Linked DNA regions of Homo sapiens. The main gene of each other region encodes a partner of the protein of the gene in region 2 in a complex. Each region holds a gene or a part of one and is shown on either strand. Other genes may lie near its edges. A codon is read from its position in the direction of its gene.

Region 1 (3,657 bases), on a different chromosome or scaffold from region 2:
TGATTTTACATGCTATGTAGAAATCATCATAATAAATATCTAATAAGAAAGATAAAAATCTGCCTTGAATTATTTTTTCTTAAAAATATTCTTAGCAATTTCATTTAATATTTAAATGACTGTATAGCTTTTACTAAGTTGGATTTTGTAGCTAATCAATTCAGTCCAATAATACTTAATTTTAGTCTTTACAAGCATTTAATTATAGGCTATTATAAAATCACCTTCAAATAGTTTTCTTAAATGACTTCTGAAGGCTAAGTTTAGGTTTTTACATATTCAACAATTGTTTCCTTTTTTTAATGAAAATGTCCATGCTAGAGTTATGTAATAAAATATCAGAGTAGAAATGAGCTTTATGTATTTATATTTACCACTCAGAGGTAATTTAAAAATCATACGTCTATTTACATAATCATAATAACTGAACAGGAATCCATGACTTTGCAATCTTTTTGTTAATGGAGGTTACTGTTACTTGATTATTCAGGGAAACATTAAAAAAAGAAAAGCTTATAAAAGCAACCCATAAACATATAAGTGAAACTAATTGCCGGAATATTAGAGAAAATACTGCTGACACATATTGAAAAATATTTTTATATTTTATCTAATAGCAATCCCTATAAAACTTAAGGAATCCCAACTTACAAGTTGGAAGCTTTAGATTTAAATGTACCTATTTGCTTCATAATCTTGAAAAAATAATATAATCTTTCTAGGGTTAAATTTAGTCTCGAGTTTAATACAGGATTCTGAGAAAGACCTTTTTAGGCTTTCTAAATATAAACCAGTGTAAAAGGATCGTATAAGAGACATGTCACAGTCAGTCCCCAACCCATCTTGTTTCAAAATTCAATTATTTACACTATCTGCCCCTATGTTCCAGAAACTACAAGTGCTGATTCACTCTTTCTGCTTTGTAATGTAGTATCCATGATGTGGATTTTCTTGCTTTCTGGACATCCTTTTCCCTCTTCTCAGTCTGGAGAATTTTTGCTTATCTTTAATGTTCTGCTGGAATGTTAGCAGTTCCTCTGTAAACTTTTGTTCAAATGGCCAGAACTGAGTTTGTTCTCTCATTTGTGTTCTCAGCATTTTGTATATAAATATATTAAAATACTGATTACCCTATAAAAATTTGTTTATTGGCCTTTGAGCCTTATTATATAGAGTGTGCTCCCGTAAGCAGAGTCTGTTTCTCTCCAGGTGGGCACAATGCCTGACATATACTAAGTTCTCAAGGTGGTGTTTGAGCATTAAATGAATGGGACATAAGACACTTCATAAATATTCCTACCATTTTGGAAATTTCCATTGATTTTTTTTTTGTCTGCACTATTAATTTGGAAAATTGGAAAAAACTGAAAATGATACAGAGAAAAATACAGCAAAAAAAAGTTGGAATGTTAAAAAGGAAAAGTAAATCCCAATAAAAGACAGATATTTGATATTTGGGGTAATAGATAAAGCAAATTATAAAATTTTAGTTATTATAGGTCTTGCAACAATATATGAAATAATCCCAGCCTCTCTTAAATATTATCTTGCTGTAGATATATCCTGTAGTATATGCCTAATATATCAGTGATTGGCTTTTTTTCCTTTCGGTGTTCTAGTACAAACACCAAGGTAGGAAATAACAGAAATTCAAAGATTACAATATTTAAGAATATTATCCTTAATCAGTCCCTGGTGTGCACTGCTTGTTTTGATACATCTTTCTAATAAAAAACAATGTTAACATATGAATTCTCTAAATATCAGCCATTTTAGTATACTTACCTAGAAGAGGTCAGATTGGTTTTTTTTTAAATATATATTTCATATGATATATTGGAATCAGTGCATGCTATGCTGAAATGCAGGGTTATTTTATTTTCTGTCATTCTTTCCTGTGCCCAGATTTGTGCTAGCACCAGGTGTTGATAGCAGTATTCTCACTGTTACACAAAAACCTCAGACTGACTCTAAGAATTTCTAACCAAAGAAACATAAAGCCTTCAAACCTGATTGCTTAAATTTCACATCATACTTGTCAGATGGGAAACCAGATTGATTCATAATTAATATAATTCTTAAACTGGATAATAATTATGCGAGTAGCAATAATGTATTATGAATAGAGAAAACAAATTTGGATTATTTGACTTAGAGAACCACATGCTGACTCTGGCCATGTTCCCAGGACCATGTGATCCAGGACATGGTCTTAAAATGAAAAAATTCAGTTGTATTTGAAGCCCATTAGGGACCCTGACACTAGACAACACAGTGTTGAACCATCTTATAAATCGTGGATCATTCCAGAATACATAATCGGATTTGTATTCCATATTGCTTTTTGTTTAAAGAGTTTAAGAAAAACTAAAATAATCAAATCTGAATTGTAGAATAATCTCCTTTCATTTCCTATCCAAAAGATATGAAAATGAGAAAATAATAGATAACATTTCCAAAGGATTCAGATAGGTAGAGTTATTCTGTGAAATTGTTTTGAAATTCAAGTTGGTTTTCATGCTCTTGCAAAACTGTATTCACAAATGTCAATAAAATATATAAGCCCAGCTTTACAATGGCTATGCTAATCCAATTTTCAATTTGCTGCTGTAATATAAATGTCAGTTGATGGGCCATAAGGTACTTACCACCCCAGCGCTCATCACACACCGTAAAGAGGGTGGTTTTATTGGCTAAGCCTGGGAACACGGTGCTGCACTCCATGACGATGGCCTGAGGAATCATTATAATGCAGGAGACAATCCAGATGATGACAATGCTGTTACGGGCCCGCTTTGCTGTGCTCTTAAACATCAAAGGGTGACAGATTGCATACCACCGATCCAAGGCGATACAGCTCAGTGTGAGGACAGACACAGACACCGACACGGTCTAGAGAAAAGAAAGATCATAGTAATAGAGAAGCACCAGCTGTTAAAAGAATTACTCTTAATATATTTACTATATGAGAAAGGTAGTCACAACATATAAGCAAATTCAAAGCTGCCAAAAATAAACAATCCATGCAAGTGCTTTCTATTTAAAAAGAAATTATATCACAAAAATGAAATATTAGAAATATACTTTTAAATGTAAATTTATTGTTAAACATGAAAAGGTATGATGAAAACTTTGCAATCTTTTTTTACTCCAAATGTCTTAATTTATAATATGGCATTCTTTAAATAATTACTGTAATTATTTTGTCCTGTAATTTTTCCATTGATTGGAAGAAATCATACCCTCATATAGAAAAAAAAAAACACATATGTTTAGTCCAAACTGGAAAAGCCTCAATTATAAAGAATAATATGTCTTTCTTCTAAATTACCACATAGAAATTTGATTGAAATTATATTTAATTAACATTTTTAAATTATGGGTAGCTTATTTCATATTTTCAAATAATAAGGGCTATTTGTACATCAGTGCATTTTCAACATGTAGCACCCAAGGAAAGTTACGAGTCATATTAAAAGAGAATTTTGTATGCGAATCTCCTTATGACAGTTTGCTCACTGCTAGCCTAGTCAATGTGATTCCAAAAACTAGGTAAGTTCACCCAGTCAAAATTTGTATATAATTAACAATGCCACAAATCATTCTTTAACTTGACACTTTAAGGAAATAACAACAACAAAAAATTTTAAAAATTCA
Region 2 (3,657 bases):
CCAGCAACTTTACTGACCACCATTACTTTTTACAGTAACAAAATATACCTTGCATACATTTCTTGATCTGATTGCTGATTGAATGTGCTCAGTTTGTGAAAACTTAAGTGAGCTAGTATACATGGATCAATTTCAAGCTATACCGAAATAAATGTAATTCTTGGAATTAGATTAACTTCGGAACCATATAAGAAGGCAGTTTAACTCCTACTACATTATATTGATTATAACTGTAAGTTTACTTACAAGTTCCATCCCTCTTAAATACCATGAAGAACAAAATTAGTAAGCCTTCAGCAACGGCTGTCAAATAAGATGTATGTGCCCAAACAAGAAAAATGAATAATATAGATCAGTTACTAGAAAAAATTCTGGATTGTACTTTAGTGAGGCAAGGGTAACAGGAGGAGTTTCATACAACTGAAGATGTAAGTCTTAAGGAACTCATTTTACAATTTATTAAAAGGCACAAATACTATCACAGATTCAACAATTCACTGTTTCTCTATTAAGGTTACCACCACTTTTAAAGACATTCTTCTCCTAAAAGTAAATCCGTTATAATCCTGGAGTTCTATCAGGAATCTCTTTGAGTCAACAGTGCAGGAAGTTTTAGAAAGGATTTTATATTTTGTGGAAAGTTGTCAAACTCCTCTGAGAAATGGCACCATCTTTTGAATAAACTTAACGTTTCATAATTTACACTAACAGCTTTATTTTCCAAAAAAAAAAAAAAGTTTGCAAAAAGCCACTGCACTAATTCTAAAAATGGATAATAAAATGAAGAGAAAATTACTGCTATAACATTTGTAAAATCTTCTGATTATGTAAAGTGCATTCTCTATAGAATTCTTAACACAGCACAGATATTTACCTGGTCTAGCCCCAGTAAGGAGGCTGTTAAAGAGAAATCCAAGTCCCTCAAGGAAGTTACGGTGGGATTAGAAACTAATGTTTAAAACTGAATTTATACTTCTTGAAGTCTTCACTATATATATACACACACACACATATATGCACACATATAGATACACACACGCGCGCACACACACACACACACATCCTTGCTAAGAAAAGCCAATAAAAAGAATTTAATGTCTATGACCACAAATGGATGAAACTGCAAGGGAGGGCTGATTCCACAGAGTCTCTGAAGTATTTATAATAATAGCCTATAATTATTAAGAATGTATGTACCATGTAGTATTCTAAGTACTTCAGATGCATTAGCTTACTTTGTCACTAGCCCTATGAAGTAGATATATTTATTATCCAGCATTTATAGAAGAAAAAACTGAAGCTTATAAAATTTGGTAACTTGCCCAAGGTCTCATGGGAAAACTTTTACCACCAGAGTTCTAAGTCAACTCACCTTTCCTCTCTGGAAAGCCTTTCTACAGAGCTAAATAAACCTTGGAGGGGAAAAAAATTCCTTAGACATGGAAAATGTTAGAAAACTAAATTCATAGATAGCAAAGTCTCTTCTACATTATAAGTTTCCATACAACACAAAGCTTACACCCAGTAAGGGTTAAATAGTAGGTTCAGAAATACATGAAAACAACTGACAGATTTATAACCAAAGTAATATCTGAGAGGCAAGCTACCTCCACCTCCACCCCCCAAGATCAACAATGAAGTCCCAATATTGACACTCACCTCCCCTACCTAGTATCTATTTTATTTTTTCTTCCCCATTTGACATTATGAGGACTTATCTTTATGTATATATTGTATTTCCCCAAGTAGACTGTAAATTCTCTTAAGGATCTGGTAAGGCTAATGCGTAATTTGACAGGAAAAGCATGGAACACATCTTACAAATGCTACTAGTGATCATCCTCACCACATAGGAACAAGCAAGACATAAAGAACAGTCTGCTGGTGAGCCTCTGAGCAGCCTGCTGGCTCCTGAAAGCTGAGGTTTACCAGAGTCACATCATCCTGTGTGAAATATATAGTTGTGAGTATATATTAAATGCCACATTGCAATAGTGTATGCATTTTAAGAAAGCAGCAAAATAACATGTGAAACAGCAAGGCAGCAATACTGTTAAAAACAAAGTTCCCAGAATATTCAAATATGAAAATCACATTTCACTCTACCACTTATTTACCAAGAATCATGATTTTGATCATGCAACAAGAATATGGTCCCCAAAATTAGTTTACTTTTTAGAAATGTGTTAGGAATAATGTAGTAGGTTTTCATTACTCTAAACCAGCAAGATATATATTGGGCTAAAATTCACTCAAAATACCCAAGGCACAAAGAATATGTACCAATTTTTCCCTTTAAAAGAAAACTAGTCAAAATTAATGTTCAACAATTTATCCATTAATTTAACCAACAATTATGAAACAGCTACTATGTGCCATCCCATCAGATGATAAGTCTGACAAGATTCATGCTCTGATGGGGCCAATGCCATAGAGAAAGGCAACAGACAATAAAAAATAAAAGTACAAGATGATTTCAATATGGTATTAGTAGGAAGGGAGACGAAGGAAGACTAATTTAGACTGGATGATCAGGAAAAATGTCAATAAAGAAGAGGCAAAGAAAAGCTTTATTCTTTCACATTACGACTTGAGTAACACCATGGGTTCAATATGACATGTAAGAAACTGGTGCTTTTAGTGTTACCATGATAGTCACATAAATTATGAGGGACTGGAGAATGTAAAATTACAATTATTTTGCACTTTCAAAAGTGATATATAAGATACTGATGAAGATAATGGGAAATGGGGTGCTGCTATAACAAACACCTAAAAATGCAGAAATGGGCAATGGGCAGAGGCTAAAAGAATTTTGAGAAGCATAATAGAAAAAGTCTAGGTGGTCTTGACATACTGTTAATAGAAATACGATGTTAATGTCTCTCCCAGTGTGGGCTCAGAACGAAGTGAGAAGCATGGTAGATGACACATTATCACCTTAGAAAATATGTGAATTATCATGAACATACTATTGCTAGACGCATGGAGCTTAAATTTGCTGCTGATGAGGACTTGGATGGGAAGAAAGGTGAAACATGTTATCAAAAACTAGAGGAAGGGGATCCTTGCTATATACAGGCAGAAAGCTTAGCTGAATTAAGTCCAGCAGTTACGTGGAAAGCAGACCTTGTAAGCTATGAACCTGGACATTAAGATGAAGAGATTTCCAAGCAAAGTATTAAAGATGTGGCCGGTTCTTTGTTTTTGTTTTTTCTTGCTGGTTACAGTAAAACGGGACAGGAAAAAGGTGAAGTAAAAGAATATGAAATGAAATAATGCTGTCAGACCACCATAATTCCAGAGGCAAGAAACAGGCTGATAAAAGTAATCAGCAGCATACAGGTGCTACACCCTTCATTAGAAAAGAAGGATGACTCCCAAGAGTGGAGAAGTTCAGTACCCACAGGGTGGAGTAAAGAGTCACAGAGAACTATCCCCAGTCCTTGAAACCTAAAGGAGTTTTGAAAGTGCTCAAAACTAGAGACTCCTTTTTTCTTTCCATTTAATGATAACCTATGCCTGACCCACCATATTCTGGGAGCAGATAACTTGTTTGCTAGTTTCACAGGTCCACAAACAGACAGGAATTTTGTCCCAGTATGGATTACACCCAGAATCTCACCTATTCCTGAGTTAGATCAAGAGCCCTGGTTG

The links. Proteins that work in one complex are often made in the same cells at the same time.
Region 1: the proteins of GNAI1 (region 2) and HCRTR2 are in contact, whole or in part, in a cryo-EM structure (PDB 7SQO), measured with the Homo sapiens proteins. Residues at the interface, in NP_002060.4 of Homo sapiens: Ala31, Arg32, Leu194, Phe336, Thr340, Asp341, Ile343, Ile344, Asn347, Leu348, Lys349, Asp350, Cys351, Gly352, Leu353, Phe354; in NP_001371201.1 of Homo sapiens: Thr89, Arg152 (codon at 2,841), Ala155 (codon at 2,832), Ile156 (codon at 2,829), Pro159 (codon at 2,820), Leu160 (codon at 2,817), Met161 (codon at 2,814), Phe162 (codon at 2,811), Lys249, Gln254, Lys301, Thr302, Met305, Leu306, Ser368, Lys370.

What each region holds. Positions count from the first base shown.
Region 1 is NC_000006.12:55,254,371-55,258,027, reverse strand, and holds part of HCRTR2 (orexin receptor type 2), read right to left. Parts: intron 2,893-3,657; coding exon 2,649-2,892; intron 1-2,648. UniProt on the Homo sapiens protein: Nonselective, high-affinity receptor for both orexin-A and orexin-B neuropeptides. Triggers an increase in cytoplasmic Ca(2+) levels in response to orexin-A binding.
Region 2 is NC_000007.14:80,141,309-80,144,965, reverse strand, and holds part of GNAI1 (guanine nucleotide-binding protein G(i) subunit alpha-1), read right to left. Parts: intron 1-3,657. UniProt on the Homo sapiens protein: Guanine nucleotide-binding proteins (G proteins) function as transducers downstream of G protein-coupled receptors (GPCRs) in numerous signaling cascades.